Linked DNA regions of Homo sapiens: region 2 is linked to region 1. The links come from fine-mapping of genetic effects on gene expression. Tissue or cell type: fibroblasts. Region 1 holds a variant in brackets; the other region holds the start of a gene. All regions are shown on one strand. Distances are from middle to middle.

What was found. PIP is the estimated chance that this variant, and not a neighbour inherited with it, causes the effect.
Region 2: CFAP251 starts here. The variant in region 1 is fine-mapped to the expression of CFAP251 in fibroblasts (GTEx, PIP above 0.99).

Annotation. Positions count from the first base shown.
Region 1 is chr12:122,007,376-122,015,478 of GRCh38, reverse strand. No RefSeq gene overlaps it. Among named protein-coding and RNA genes, the nearest start is that of BCL7A, 10 kb to the left of the region's middle. The variant C/T (reference allele first, on the strand shown) is at 3,107.
Region 2 is chr12:121,913,734-121,921,836 of GRCh38, reverse strand. It overlaps CFAP251 (cilia and flagella associated protein 251), which reads right to left and starts at 3,245. Exons shown (of 22, transcript NM_144668.6): 1 at 3,142-3,245; 2 at 154-551. The coding sequence starts at 531. It overlaps PSMD9 (proteasome 26S subunit, non-ATPase 9), which reads right to left. Exons shown (of 6, transcript NM_002813.7): 5 at 5,893-5,981; 6 at 3,540-5,553. The coding sequence ends at 5,526. RefSeq lists a silencer at 2,967-3,116.

The DNA of each region.
Region 1 (8,103 bases):
GTGCTGGGATTACAGGCATGAGCCACCGCGCCTGGCTGTAACTGTATTTTTAAAATAAATCTAATGCAGCATAAGTGTACCATGTTTGTAAAGCCTATAGTAGTGGATAGTAATGTCCTGGGTCTTCACATTCTCTCACCACTCACTGACTCACCCAGAGCAACTTCTAGCCTGCAAGATCCATTCACGGTAAGTGCCTGTGCAGATGGACCATTTTTTATGTTTTACACTGTATTTTTGCTGTACCTTTTCTATGCTTAGAAATGTTTAGATACACAAACCCTTACCTTTGTGTTACAATTGCCTGCAGAATTCAGTACGGTACAGTATAGGATTCCCAGGCCGTACAGGTTTGTAGCTTAGGAGCAGTAGGCTGTACCATACAGCCTAGGTTTACAGTAGGTGACACCATCTGGGTTTGTGAAATCACACTCCGTGATGTTTGCACACTGATGAAATTGTCTGGGCTGGGCACCATGGCTGGCTCACACCTGTACTCCCAGCACTTTGGAGGCCAAAGTGGGAGGACCACTTGAGGCCAGGAGTTCAAGCCCAGTCTGGGCAACATAGCGAGACTTAGTCTTTACAAAAAAATGAAAAAAAAATCAGCCAGGTGTGGTGGTGCACCCCTGTAGTCCCAGTTACTCAGCCAGCTGAGGTGGAAGGATCGCTTGAGCCCAGGAGTTCAAGGCAGCAGTGAGCTGTGATCGTGCTACTGCCCTGCAGCCTGAGTGACAGAATGAGACTCTCTTAAAAAAACAGGAAAAAAATTGCCCAGCAATGCATTTCTCAGGACATATCCTCGTCGTTAAGCGACACATGACTATATTTGTTAGAGGACCTGTACGATTGTTCACGTCATCATTATAATCATCATAATGATTAAACATCATTACTATGTAATGACCCTCGCTAGGGACTGAAGTCAAACGATTCCCCTTTCCCTGCTTTCTAAATTCAAGTCTCCATCCACTCCTGCTGCTGTTCCTCCGGGGTGGAGGCTCGTTCACCACTGCGGGGTGGAGGCTCGTTCACCACTGCGGGGTGGAGGAGGTTTCCATCTCTGGAACAGAGATGTGTAATTGTGAGGCGCGTGCAGGCCCAGCCTCGGTGAGTCTCTGCAGCCTAGCAACTTGCAGCGGCAGCAGCAGCCTGTGGTTTCATAAACAGAGGTGCTCTGGTGTTTAGGGAGCAGGTCATTAGCCAGGCCTAGCAAAGAGGCAAAGCTTTAAGGAGAAAGCTCCAACCACAGAATGAAATATACTCCATTCCTCTGACACAGGAACAGAAAGGCGATGAAGCAAAGCACGACAAAGACCATCAAGGCCACCTCCCTCCTTTTACAGAAAAGAAAGCTACAATTCAATAGCTGCCCAGCCACTTAGCAGAGTTGTGGCCAGAACTCAGCTCTCCCGATTGGGGAACCGGGGCTTCCGGACTCCACACATGTCATAATGCTGATAGTTTGAAATCAGCTCTAATGGGAATATTTACACTATGGAAATTGGCAAGTGCTATACGTCAGGCCCCTCCCCTCTTCCCCACCCAGAGCTGGTTGATAAGCATTCAGCAACACGCAGCTGGTGGAACTCAGTGAGGTCCCAAATTATTAGCATTTTCTAAATGCAGAAAGTCTGGATGACCCAGTGGCTTGGAATAAAGTTGGGATCCTTCTACACACAGGCTCGGTACATTCTTAGGTCAGGGATCTAGAAGGCTGCCCAGACTTCTTCCCCTGTACTCTCCACATGTGGAGTGATTCCACCTGTTCAGCATCTGAACACCCTCCTAGTTCTGGGTGAGCCTTTGTGGGTGGAGGCAGCCCCTCCCCACCCCGCTACCGGAGCTAAAGGGGGTCTGTCTCTCTCTTCACTGGGGGCCCAGTTAAGTCCTGGGAATGGGTTCCAACCTTAGGTGTGGATGGTGGATGGTCTAGCCGGTTGATTTTTTAAAATAATGGTTCTATTAAGATATAATTCATGCAGCATAAAATTCACCCTTTTAAAGTGTATAATTCAGTGGGTTTTAGTATATTCACGGAGTTGTGCAACTGTCACCACAATCAATTTTAGAACATTTCATCATCCATAAAAGAAACCCTGTACCCATTAAACAGTCACATTAAACAGTCACTCTCTGTCCCCTCCCCACGGTCCCTGGTAACCACTAGTCTATATGGTTTCACGTAAATTAAGGATGTTTCACATGAATTGAGTCATACAATATGTGGCCTTTTAGGTCTGGCTTCTTTTGCTCAGCATGTTCTCAAAGATCATCTATCCGGTAGCATGCATTAATACATAATTTCTTCTTATAGCTAAATAATATTCCACTGTATAGATATACCACAATTTGTTTTTTCATTCTTTTGTTGATGGTTATGGGGTTGTTTCTACCTTTTGTTTTTCTTTTTTTTTTTTTTTTGAGATGGAGTCTCGCTCTGTCGCCCAGGCTGGAGTGCAATGGCATGATCTCAACTCACTGAAACCTCCGCCTCCCGAGTTCAAGCCATTCTCATGCCTCAGCCTTCCAAGTATCTGGGATTACAGGCACGAGCCACCATGCCCAGCTAATTTTTGTATTTTTAGTAGAGATGGGGTTTCACCATGTTGGCCGGGCTGGTCTCAAACACCTGATCTTAGGTGATCCACCTGCCTCTGCCTCCCAAAGTGCTGGGATTACGGGCGTGAGCCACCATGCCCTGCCTTGGTTTTGTTTTGTTTTGTTTTGTTTTGTTTTTTTCAAGAGATGAGGTCTCACTTGCCCAGGCTGGTCTCAAAGTTTCGAACTACTGGATTCAAGTAATTCTCCCACCCTCGCATCCCAAAGTGCTGGGATCTGTGATCTGTGGCATGAGCCATCGTGCCTGGTCTTACCTTACCTTTTAGCTACTATGATTCATGTTGCTGTGAACACTAATGTACATAATGGTCTTTATGTGTGGATGTATATTTTCCCTTCTCTTGGCCACATACCTAGGAAGGGAATTGCTGGGTCATATGGTAATTCTATATTTAACATTTTGAGGAACTGCCAAGCTACTTTCCAAAGCAGCTGCACCCTTTTACACTTCCACCGGCAATGTGGCAACTGCTCCGCATCCTCG[C/T]CAGCACTTGTTATTGTCTTTTTAAATTTTTAGCTATCCTAGTGGAGGTCAAGCGGGATCTTACTGTGGGATTGATTTTGACTTTGAGGTTTGAGGAAGGTAGGGACAATGGAGAAATGACTCACAGCAGACGTGGCCATTGGAAATCTTAACGAGATTGGAGGATCAAGTGCTCAGGGGTGGCAGCACCACTGGGACGTCCTGGCATCCTTTGGTTCCCACTCATCTCCAGGGCTTGCTTCTCCAGTGTCTCCATTGATTCTGTGAGTTGCCTGGTAGCTTTGAAATCAAGTCCTTTTCCACTTAAGCTAAGCAGAGTCAATTTCTATTACTGCAAACCAAAGATCATGATTGACACCAAATTGAAGCTGTCCCTCTCTCCTTCTCCTTCTTTGAGACAGAGTCTCACTCTGCTGCCCAGGCTGAAGTGCAGGGGTGCAAAACAGCTCACTGCACCTCAACTTCTCCAGGCTGAAGTGATCCTCCCACCTCAGCCTCTGGAGTAGCTGGGACCACAGCCTTGTGCCACCATGCCCAGCTAAATTTTGTTTTTATTTATTTATTTTTTTGAGATGGAGTCTTGCTCTGTCCCCCAGGCTGGAGTGCAGTGGCACAATCTTGGCTCACCAACCTCCACCTCCTGAGTTCAAGCAATTCTCCTGCCTCAGCTGCTTGAGTAGCTGGGATTACAGGTGCGTGCTAACATGTCCTGCTAATTTTTGTATTTTTAGTAAAGATGGGGTTTCACCATGTTGGCCAGGCTGGTCTCAAACTTCTGACCTCAGGTGATCCGCCCACCTTGACCTCCCAAAGTGCTGGGATTACAGGTGTGATCCACTGGGCCTAGCCTAAATTTTGTATTTTTAATAAAAATGGGGTTTCACCATATTGCCCAGGCTGGTCTCAAACTCCTAGGCCAAAACGATCCTCCTGCCTTGACCTCCCAAAGTGTTGGGATTACAGGCATGAGCCATGTTGCCCAGCTGATTTCATTTTTAAAAACTTGAAATCCCTGGAAATCTCAAAAGGATGAAAAAGTGCCAACTTAAGGACTTAAAGTAGGTGGGGCTGAAACCCACTGTGAGCCATTCAATCTGTGGCTGGTGTCATAGGAAGGAACACACTGACTTTGGGGCTAGTCTTTCCTGGGACCCTCTGAGTGACCGCCTATCCCACATCAGGACCCTGGAATATGAAGAAATGAGAAGTGGCCAGATCTTCCACTTGGAACACTTGACCAGCCTCCATTCTTCCTACCCACTTCATTTTTTCCTTTTTAAATTTAATAGAGTCGGGGTCTTGCTGTGTTGCCCAGGCTGGTATTGAACTCCTGGCTTCGAGCAATCTTCCCACCTCAGCCTCCCAAAGTGCTGGGATTACAGGTGTGAGCTGCTGCACCCCGCCACCTACCCACTTCCCATATGAAACATTCCTACTCAGGCTCATGAGGAAGAATCATACACTGGCAGTGGTAAAGGAACACTAGAGGTCATTCTAGATGCCTTGTCTTGAGCCTGCAGCATTCCCCAGGGTTGACCATGGAAAGCTTTGGTTCACTGAATGCATCTGGCTCTTCCGCAGCTCCCAGCTTTGGCTCACTTGGCTCCCTCTGGAACATTCTCCCCTCTCTGACCACTTCATCTAAACCTGCCCCCCTCTAGGGATTCCCTCTCACAGGGGCCGGGCTTTTCCCTCGTAGCTCTGAGCACCGTTTGCAAGTTTACATTAATGTGTTTGTTTAACATGAGCCCCCTAAAGACAACAGCCACTCTCTTGTTCACTCCAGATAGGCAGCCCTCACACAGGGCCCAGCACACAGTCAGCGTTTGTTGAATTCGTGAGTGGGTAATAAATGAAGTCCATCTCTCTCAGGTTTTTTTTTTCTTCTTTTTAGATGAAGTCTGGCTCTGTCACCCAGGCTGGAGTGCAGTGGCGCCATCTCGGCTCACTGCAATCTTTGCTTCCCAGGTTCAAGCGATTAACCTGTCTCAGCCTCCCAAGTAGCTGGGATTACAGGAGCGCGCCACCACAACCGGCTAATTTTTGTATTTTTAATAGAGACGGGGTTTTGCCATGTTGGTCAGGCTGATCTCAAACTTCTGACTTCAGGTGATCTGCCCACTTTGGCCTCCTAAAGTGCTGGGGCTACAGCCACTTCTTCCAGCCCCATCTCGCTCAGATTATAAAGGAAGAAATGAGATGCTTCCAGGGGAGGGGGGACGGCAGCCACCCTCGCATCCAGGAGGCATGTGCCCCACTCCCCCCATCCCCTCGCGGGTGCAGGGACAGCCGTGGTCCAGGCCCAGGGGACTACCCACTAAGCCTTCTCCAGGGCAGCCAGTCTGGCCGGTGGGCTGGGGGTGGTGCAGTCTGCAGCACATCCAGGTGGCGTGAAGTGCTCACTGGAGCCTGCCCTTGCTGTGGTCATGAAACTTGCTCCCCTCAAAAAACTCCACCAGCTTTAAAGATATGCAGCTTTAAAAAGATATGCAAAAATAAATACTATATTTACACTGATGTGTTTTATGACTTCCAATCAAAACAACAAGAGGACATGGGGAGGGGGCCTCAGACGATGGTCCGAGCCCTTTTTTTGTTGTTTTTGTTTTTTGAGACAGAGTCTCGCTCTGTCGCCCAGGCTGGAGTGCAGTGGCGCGATCTCGGCTCACTGCAAGCTCCGCCTCTCAGGTTGATGCCATTCTCCTGCCTCAGCCTCCCGAGTAGCTGGGACTACAGGTGCCTGCTACCACGCCCTGCTAAATTTTTTGTATTTTTTTTTTTTTTAGTAGAGATGGGGTTTCACCGTGTTGGCTAGGATGGGCTCGATCTCCTGACCTCGTGATCCGCCCGCCTCGGCCTCCCAAAGTGCTGGGATTACAGGCGTGAGCCACCGTGCCCAGCCATGGTCCAAGCCCTTTTGAGGCGGGGCAGCTTCAGTATTGACGCCCCCACCCTTGCCTCACGGCATCACTTGCAATTTCACACTCTCAGGGAGGGCAGTGATGCCAGTGCTGGACGACTTTCCTGGGGCTGATGCCTCACGCCTGGGCACTGATAAATGTGAGTCCGCCTTGGCATCAGTGCACTCGGGAGAACACCAGCTTCGGGGCACCGAGACCCGCAGCTCACTGTCCCACCAGTCAGCATCTCGCTGCCGCTGAACAGTGTTGGATCAACCGGCTTTTCTTTTTTTTTTTTTAATATTCCTTCCAGCTAAGCTAGCAGAGGGCGGTTACATGACATATGAGCAGGGTGGCAACTACTGTCAACTCCCAGCGCCTGGCATCTATTTATTACAGTCAATTTGGAAATAGCTGCCCGCAAGGGAACTGCTGGCCAAATCCCTAAAGAACATGCTCAAGCCGAAAACACCAGTGTCTCAGGCAGCCACAGCTTGAGGACACAGATGTTTAAAAAAAGACCTTTTTGTTTGCATCACCTCGAAGCACAGCAGAAGGCCAGGTCTGCACAGGCCAGGCAGCCAGTGAGGGGACCAGGTGCTGTGGCGCCGGCAGGAGAATCTGCTCAAGAATTGAAAGCACAGAGCAGATAGTGGAAATAATTCAGGGGTGACTGAGTCAGAAAGGTGGTACAGATTTCATTTTTTAAAAACTTTATGGCCGGGCGCGGTGGCTCACGCCTGTAATCCCAGCACTTTGGGAGGCCGAAGCTGGCGGATCATGAGGTCAAGAGATCGAGACCATCCTGGCTAACATGGTGAAACCCCATCTCTACTAAAAATATAAAAAATTAGCCGGGCATAGTGGCAGGCGTCTGTAGTCCCAGCTGGCTGAGGCAGGAGAATGGCAAGAACCCGGGAGGCGGAGGTTGCAGTGAGCCAAGATCACGCCACTGCACTCCAGCCTAGGTGACAGAGCGAGACTCCATCTCAAAAAATAAAAATAAAAATAAAAATAAATAAAAACTTTATGTTGAAATAATTTTAGGCTTGCCAAGATAGTGCCATGATCCCTAGACCCTTCACCCAGTTTCCCTAATGTGAACATCTTACACAACTGTGATACACTGAGCAAAACTCAGAAATTTTGTTTTGAGATAGGATCTCACTCTGTCACCCAGGCTGGAGTGCAGTGGCACGATCACGGCTCACTACGGCCTCAACCTCCCAGGCTCAAGTGATCCTCTGGCCTCAGCCTCCTGACTAGCTGAGACCACAGGCATGCTCCACCATGTCCAGCTAATTTTAAAAAAATGTTTTGTAGAGACGGGGTCTCCCTATGTTGCCCAGGCAGATTTTGAACTCCTGGGCTCAAGTGATCCTCCCAGCTCGGCTGCCCAAAGTGCTGGGATTACAGGTGTAAGCCACTGCGCACCGCCCAAAACTCAGAAATTAATATTGGTGCAACACTGTTAACTAAACCACAGACTTTAGCTGGATTTCACCAGTTTTTCCACTGATGTCCTTTTTCTGTTTCAGGAACGGATCCAGGTGTCCACACTGCATTTAGTTGTCATGGTTCCGTCTCTTCTGGTCTGTGAGAGTTTCTCCATCTTTCCTTGTCTGTCATGACTTTGACATTTTTTGAAGAGTGCCGGTCAGGTGTTTGGTACAGATTTGTAGTATTTGTGGAAATCTGCTGGAATGAGTACCCTTGGCCTACGAGGCAGAGTCGGGGGTGGTGAGCTACACCCTGTGGGACAAATCTAGGCTGCTGCCTGTGTTTGCAGGTCTCCGAGCTAAGAATGGGTTTCACATTTTTAAATGGTTGAAAAAAAAACAAAAGACAAATAATAGTCCATGATATGTGGAAATTATCATGAAATCCAAATGTCAGTGTCCATAGGTGAAGTGGGGCTGGGAGGCAGCCACGGGCATTCTTTTCTGTGTTGTCCCTGGGGGCTTTTGCACTACAATGGCAGGATTGGGAAGTCACTACGGAGGCCCTTTGGCCCCAAGAGCCTCAATATTTACTCCCTGGCCCTTGACAGGGGAGGTTTGCCCAGCCTGATGAGGGCCCTATAAGGACCTGCCATTG
Region 2 (8,103 bases), 94 kb after region 1:
CAGCCTGGGCAACAGTGAGACTCTGTCTCAAAAAAAAAAAAAAAGGAATGGATTGTACCTTATTTGGTTTTGTGTTCCCATAGTCTGGCCTATACTAAGCATTCAACTAATGATTCTGAATGAATTGATGAATGAATTAAGATGACTACTTACTGGGAAAATTCCTGATGTGATTGACTGGGAATCAGTAATCTGTGTCTCCAAACGGATCATGGACGCTGTGACTTCTTGGGGCTCTACTGTGGTTTCTTCCTGTATTCCTGAAGCCTCCTTCTCTTGGACTTCTCCAGCCTTTTCCTCAGTTTCTTCCATGACAATCTTTTTGTCCTCCTTCCCCTCCTCCTCCCCTTCCTCCTCGCCCGTTTTCCTCTCCTCCTCCTGAGACTCTCTCCATGCTATTGTGTCATCTTTTGATTCCTGTTGTGGATCTTCTACTTCTTTATAATTTGGATTAGGTTCCTCCTCTTCTTTCATTTCTGTTTCTCCATTTTCTCCTGTTGCTTCTCGGGGAGCTTCTGCTGCATCTGACATTCTTCTCTGTAGAGTTTCCTCTAGAGAGATTTTGACCATAATAACCAGCTGGCCCTCAGCTTCCCATTTCCATCTCCTAGTGCACTAACCTACTGATGAAATGTGCATAAATGGCTCTGTTCCCTTTCCATAGGAATAAAAAGAATGTCATGTTTCTGACCAGGCACGGTGGCTCATGCCTGTAATCCCAGCACTATGGGAGGCCAATGCAGATGGATCACCTGAGGTCAGGAGTTTGAGACCAGCCTGGCCAACATGATGAAACCCCGTTTCTACTAAAAATACAAAAATTAGCTGGGTGTGGTGGCAGGCGCCTGTAATCCCAGCTACTTGGGAGGCTGAGGCAGGAGAATCGCTTGAACCTGGGAGGCAGAGGTTGCAGTGAGCCAAGATCATACCATTGCACTCCAGCCTGGGTAACAAGAGCAAAGTTCTGTCTCAAAAATAAAAACAAAAAAAGAATGTCATATTTCTGGCCAGGCACAGTGGCTCACGCCTGTAATCCCAACACTTTGGGAGGCTGAGGCGGGAGGATCAGTTGAGGTCAGGAGTTTGAGACCAGCCTGGCCAACATGGTGAAACCCCATCTCTACTAAAAATACAAAAAGTTGGCCGGGCGTGGTGGCTCACGCCTGTAATCCCAGCACTTTGGGAGGCTGACGCGGGTGGATCACGAGGTCAGGAGATCGAGACCATCCTGGCTAACACGGTGAAACCCCGTCTCTACTAAAAATACAAAAAATTAGCCGGGCTTGGCGGTGGGCGCCTGTAGTCCCAGCTACTCGGGAGGCTGAGGCAGGAGAATGGTGTGAACCCGGGAGGCGGAGCTTGCAGTGAGCCGAGATCGTGCCACTGCACTCCAGCCTGGGCAACACAGCGAGACTCCGTCTCAAAAAAAAAAAAAAAATACAAAAAGCCTGGTGTGGTGGTGGTGCCTGTAATCTGAGCTACTCAGAAGGCCGAGGCAGGAGAATAGCTTGAATCTGGGAGGCGGAGGTTGCAGCGAGCCAAGATCATGCCACTGCAGTCCAGCCTGGGCAACAGAGCGAGACCCTCTCTCAAAAAAAAAAAAAAAAAAAAAAAGTCACATTTGTGGGAAACCTTTTTTTTTTTTTTCTCTTGAGACAGAGTTTTGTTCTTGTTGCCCAGGCTGGAGTGCAGTGGCACGATCTTGGCTCACTGCAATTACTGCCTCCAGGGTTCAAGCTATTCTCCTGCCTCAGCCTCCCGAGCAGCTGGGATTACAGGCGTCTGCCACCACACCCAGCTAATTTTTGTATTTTTTCAATGGAGGCAGGGTTTCACCATTTTGGCCAGTCTGGTCTTAAACTCCTGACCTCAAGTGATCCGCCCGCCTTGGCTTCCCAAAGTGCTGGGATTACAGGCGTGAGCCATCACGCGCAGCTGGGAAATCTTAAAGTATATGTATTTGTGGCCCAGATCTTAAAAATACTGATCCAGGGCCTGTCAACTTTCTGGGAATAAACACCTTGTAGCCTTTTTACTCATTTAAAATATATTTATATTCCCACAGGCAGCAAAATGCATAACCCACATATTAGCAACAATTCTAGAAACAGGAATACGAGAAGAAGCAGGGTAGCCTAGTGGTTAAAAGCAAGGGCCTTGCTGTCAGCTTGTCCTAGCATTGAATCCCATTTCCACCACGTACTTGCTCTGTGACCTTGGGCAAGTCACTTTACCCCTCAGAGTCTGCATTTTCTCATGGGCAAAATGAAAAGAATAATCCTAAATTCTAGGGTTGTTGTAGAGAAGTGATAACATATATAAAATGCTCATCACAATTCTGGCACATACAGCTTGAAAAAATGGTAGCAGTTGTTATTATTTGAGAGAAAAGCAACCCTAATGTGCAAAGAAATGAACAGTTTGAAAGCCTTCTGGCATATTCTCCATTTATTCCTTACAACAAACAAGAGTTTGAACTAGGAAAACAATAAGGATGGATACTTTATCCCTAAAGAGTTGGACCCCGAACAAAAAAAATCCCTACATTTTCAGTGACATTAGAATAAGAGAACTCAACACTTTGAAAATAAAGTCCCAGAGAGTACAGAGTAGAAAAGGTATTTCTATTTCTTAATTTCTTTCTCAGCACTAAATGTATCAGCTCCTCAAATTCATCTCTGGTAAAAAAAAAATAATAATAATAATAATAAATAAATAATGAATGGATAAATGAGTTTGAGGCTCTGAGAGGTGAAGTGACTTATTCAAGATGACACCGCTAGTAAGAACGAGATTTCTCTGGCACTTAGTTTCTCCAGCTGAAAAATCACTGCTCTGAATCAAGTCTAGGGCTCTCACCACCGAGCCTCTTTTGACTGAGCCCAACTTCGCCGGCGCGTCTGGACAGCCGGGTTCGAGCCGCAGGGGTTTGGGGCAGGGGTGCCAGGTGCGTGGCTCTGCGAGGGGATTAAAGCCCAGGTGCGGCCTCTGCCTCCAACTCAGGTCTCCCTGGGGCCGCCCCAGGCCCCACAAGGGCCAGGTCGGGTGAGCGCCCCCCAAGGGGCACCAGACCCCGCCAGGTCGGGGGCCCCCTCGCCAGGGCCGCGTGGCCTCCGCCCCGGACTTACAGAGAGCACCCACCCCGGTCTTCAAAAGGCCAGAGTCGTCCCGCCGCCTGGACCCCTCAGCCACCTCCCGGGCCTCCTTCCAGCGGCCGCCACCTTCTCCACCAGCTCCCTAGTTCTGGTTGCCACCCAAGCTCCGTCCCCATGGCAACCGCCACCGCCGGAAGCGACAGGCCCTAAAGCGACAGGGCAGGGCGGTGGTCACGTGCCAGGAAACGGTGACGAGCGTGCCCGACGTGCCTCCTGCCGGTCGCTGGCGGCATAGACTTTCCTCGCTTTTCTGTCCTTCCTCCGCTCGCACGATCCCACCTTTTCACATGGTCCCGTCCCCTAAGAAGCTGCAGCGGCCAATACTGCCAATTTTTACTTTCCGCAACCTTGGCAAGATGGGGTGGAGAAGTATGAACTCGGATACAATGCTCTTTTCCAAAAGCAAACTGAATTTCCAGGTCTCATGGATGCAGCACACAACCGTCCTGCCTGCCTCCTCACCGGGCACCGCGTGTTGCAGACAATTCCAGCTGGCTGGGGGCAGATATGACACAGGGTGCACCAGCTTGCGGTTCTCAGCACAAAGCGTTTCCGCAAAACCGGTCTGGCTATATCTATTAGGATCATTCCACGTCAAAGTGGCTCTCCACTAACATCTCATGGAAGACGGCAACAGGTGGCCACACGGGTTTCCACTGGGACCCCTGCAGGAAACCAGCCAGAGCCACTGAGGCAGAAGGCTCTCTGCTGCTGTCATTTTAGGAGAATGTGAATAATTCTCCCCGCCCACACTGCCATGCCCCAGTGATGGTAAATTGATTAATATGCATACATCTTAAAATAAAAAAGAAAGGATAAACTGGGCAAGCTGTGTTTATTATAGTCTGAGACTTTATAAAAGAGACTGGAAAATACGTGGAATTAGAACATGCAATTTAAACAGCAAACATTGGTAAACACAGCATGTCTGTGGCTACCAGAGGGGAATACGTATGGCTGTCAGGTCAAATAGAGTTTGAGGGAATTCGCCCAATAGGAAGGCTTTGGAATTGAGTGTGAGAACCTGTGGCTGGAAGCACACAGCAATACCAATCCCATCAAGGCAAGCTGGTATCTGTATCCAACCACAGCAAAACCAGTCCCAAGGAACACAGGGCTTGCCTGGCAGAACTGCCAAAACAGAAAGCGGTGTGCAAGAACTGGGGAAATGAACACTGATACCATGGAGAGGAAAAAATAATTCAAAGTATTGGCAGGAATCCCTGAGAACCATTTTACCATCTTAAAAGAGACAAAAAATAAAAGGGAGGAAGAATAAGCATTTTCAAGAGGTCTGATCTACTCGTTCCTATCCATACCTCAGCGGTTTACAAAATAGCGCTGATCTCAGGGCATAGCCAGGAGGTTCAATTATAAAAAGTCAAACTAGCAGTGGGCTGGGCGCAGTGGCTCACGCCTGTGATCCCAGCACTTTAGGAGGCCAAGGCAGGAGGACTGCTTGAGCCCAGGAGTTCGAGACCAACCTGGTCAACACAGGGAGACCCTGTCTCTACAAAAAATAAATTAGCTATGCATGGTGGTGCACGCCTGTGGTCCCAGATACTTGGGCGGCTGAGGCAGTGCCCACAGCGTCAAGGCTTCAGTGAACCTTGATCACGACACTGCACTCCAGCCTGGGTGACAAAGCAAGACCTTGTCTCCAGAAAACAAAAACAAAAACACACAAAAACGGAGGGGTTCTTACTAGCGAAGTGAAAGGAGCTTGCTGCCCTCTGGTGGGTTCCTAAAGAGGAAGCTGACAGGACACCACGCTGGGCCACCTGGGAAGCCTCCAGGCTTTCCCTGTTCTCCAAAGGGAGCTACTATGGCCCTGACAGCCCAGCTGCTGAGGAAGCACAGTACTTAACCATTTCCGTATCCACAGCAGCAAGGCCTCAGTGCAAAGAAATATGTTGGTCAAAGCCTGACTTTGCAATTGCTAGCCTGTTTTGCCCAACTTTCTATGAAGCTCTTCTGACCCCATCTGAGCTTTGGTTTGGGAGGGTCATAAGAAATTCAGCTGGGGTGACAACAGGGTCATATCAGCACTGTAAAACTCTTTATTAAAAATAATAATAATAATCACACCAGTACCTGCCAGAATAACTTCCGCCCACTTGCCCACAATCCAGGGAATTCCTATTTAGGGCCGTGGCCTAATTTGTGAAAGAGGCCAAGCCTAAGTTTTTAAGAATGCCTTAATCCAGGGAGATTACACTGGTGGGCCACAGTACTGCCACCACACAGAAGTTCAGGTTACAAGCCTCTTCCAGATCCTTATGCTTCAGGGAGAGAAGACAAGTTGGAAATCCCTAGACCCAAGTCCAGGGCAAGGGAAGATGCTTTCCTGTTACTGTTCCCCAGGGACAATCATCTTTGCAGAGGAATAATGTTGCAGCTGGAAGAAAGAAGAAAAGGAATGGCGTAAGTTTGGAGGCTCCCTTCAGGAAGGTCAGAGGCTGAGCCCTTCTGACCTTTTCACCAATGTTCTTTCATTCTTTTAAAGCAAATGCCTAGTGCATGAATGAACTGGAGAGACTCCCAGGAGAGACTCTGGGGCTCCCTCTGCTTCTAGAGCTGTAGTCTCGTTCCTACCACGAGGATTTATCTGCAGTTTCCATGCAAACTGGGGATTCCCATTATTCCCCAATGTCTCCCCAGCCTTCCCCTCCAGCTTCATGTTTAACAAACACTCAAATGATGCCCCAGTGAGAATGAACAGAAACAGATACTTTACCCCAGCAGTCCTTTTCCTGCCCAGCGTGTTGGAACAAGTCTAAGCTGGTGTTTTTCCCCCCTGCGGATCACTGTCACATTCAGGGGCTTCTGAAAAGAAAATAAGCTCATTTCGTGTTCAGCCTCGTTAGTACTCAGAGATGCAGGCTAAAATGCTGAGATCCCATTTTTTGCCTATCAAATTGGTAAAGATTTACATTTGCAGCATAATCCTGTGGTTGGCGAGAGGGTGGGGAACGTGGCACTGCACTCTCAGGGCAGCCAGGGTGCTGACCTCAGTACCATCTTCCTCAAAAAACACGTGTCCCACCACCAACGATCTTTAAAAGGTACATCCAAGGTACATAGTACACAATTGCAAGATGACATACAAATTACAAGACATACAAATGCCTGTAATCCCAGCACTCTACAAAAAGTATAAAAATTAGCGAGACATACAAATGAAATGTTCATTCCAGGACTGTGTAGAAATTCAAAAACTGAAAACACCAGAAATGTCCATCAATAGGTATTGTTCAAATACAGTACAGAGAATGAAGGGTTTTAGTCAAAACAAACCAAAACCCCACCAAAGTATGAACCTATTTGATAATATTTTCTTTCTTTTTTTTTTTTTTTGAGACACAGTCTCACTCTGTCACCCAGGCTGGAGTGCAGTGGCACAATCTTGGCTCACTGCAACCTCTGCTTCCCAGGTTCTAGCAATTCTCATGCCCCAGCCTCCTGAGTAGCTGGGACTACAGGTGCCCGCCACCACACCCGCCTAATTTTAGTATTTTTAGTAGAGACAGGGTTTCGCCATGTTGGCCAGGCTGGTCTCAGAACTCCTGATCTCAGGTGATCCACCCACCTCAGCCTCCCAAAGTGCTGGGATTACAGGTGTGAGCCACCGTGCCCGGCCGATAATATTTTCTAAAAGGACACCTGTGTTGCTCTAGTGTGCGAAGTTTTCTGGAAGAACATGGAAAAACTTGTTAAGAGTGGTTACTTCCAGAGAGGACTAGTCCTTTGGAAAAAGAAGATGTTTACTTTTATATATTTCCATATCATTAATTTTTTAACCATGCGTATGTATTGCTTTATTTTTCTGAGACAGAGTCTTGCTCTGTTGCCCAGGCTGGAGTGTAGTGGTGCAATCTCAGCTCACCGCAACCTCAGCCTCCTAGGTTCAAGCAATTCTCGTGCCTCAGCCTCCTGAGTAGCTGGGACTACAGGCATGCAGCACCATGCTCAGCTAATGTTTCTGTATATTTAGTAGAGACAGGGTTTCACCATACTGGCCAGCCTGGTCTCAAACTCCTGGGCTCAAGTGATCTGCCCACCTCAGCATCCCAAAGTGCTGGGATTTTGGGCATGTGCCACCACACCTGGCATGTATGTATTACTTTCTTTTTTTTGAGATGGGTTCTCTGTCGCGCAGGCTGGAGTACAGTGGCACAATCTCGGCTCACTGCAACCTCCGCCTCCCCGGTTCAAGCAATTCTCCTGCCTCAGCCTCCTGAGCAACTGGGATTACAGGCACGTGCCACCATGCCCAGATAATTTTTGTATTTTTAATAGAGATGGGGTTTCGCCATGTTGGCCAGGCTGGTCTTGAACTCCTGATCTCAGGTGATCCACCCACCTCAGCCTCCCAAAGTGCTGGGATTACAGGCATGAGCCACCACACCCAGCCTGTATATAGTACTTTAATTTAAAAAATTAAAATTAAAGCAGGGGGAGTACATACCAAAAAAATTACAAATTAAAATACGATATCCAGGCACGGTGGCTCACGCCAGTAATCCCAGCACTTTGGGAGGCAGGAAGATCACTTGAGCCCAGGAGTTGAAGACCAGGCTGGGCATGGTGAAACCCTGACTCTACAAAAAGTATAAAAATTAGCGAGGCATGGTGGTGTGCACCTATAGTCCCAGCTACTCGGGAGGCTGAGGCAGGAGGATTGCTCAAGGGAGGTCAAGGCTGCAGTGAGCTGTGACTGCACCACTGCACTCCAGCCTGGGCAACAGAGTGAGACCCTGTCTCAAAAAAATAAAAATAAATAAATAAAACAAGATGCCATCAAAATCTAAAACTTCTATGTATCAAATGACACTATTAACAGAGTGAAAAGGCAACCCACATGATAGGAGAAAATACATACATGCTGGGTACGGTGGCTCATGCCTGTAATCCCAACACATTCAGAGGCCCAGGCAGGAGGACTGCC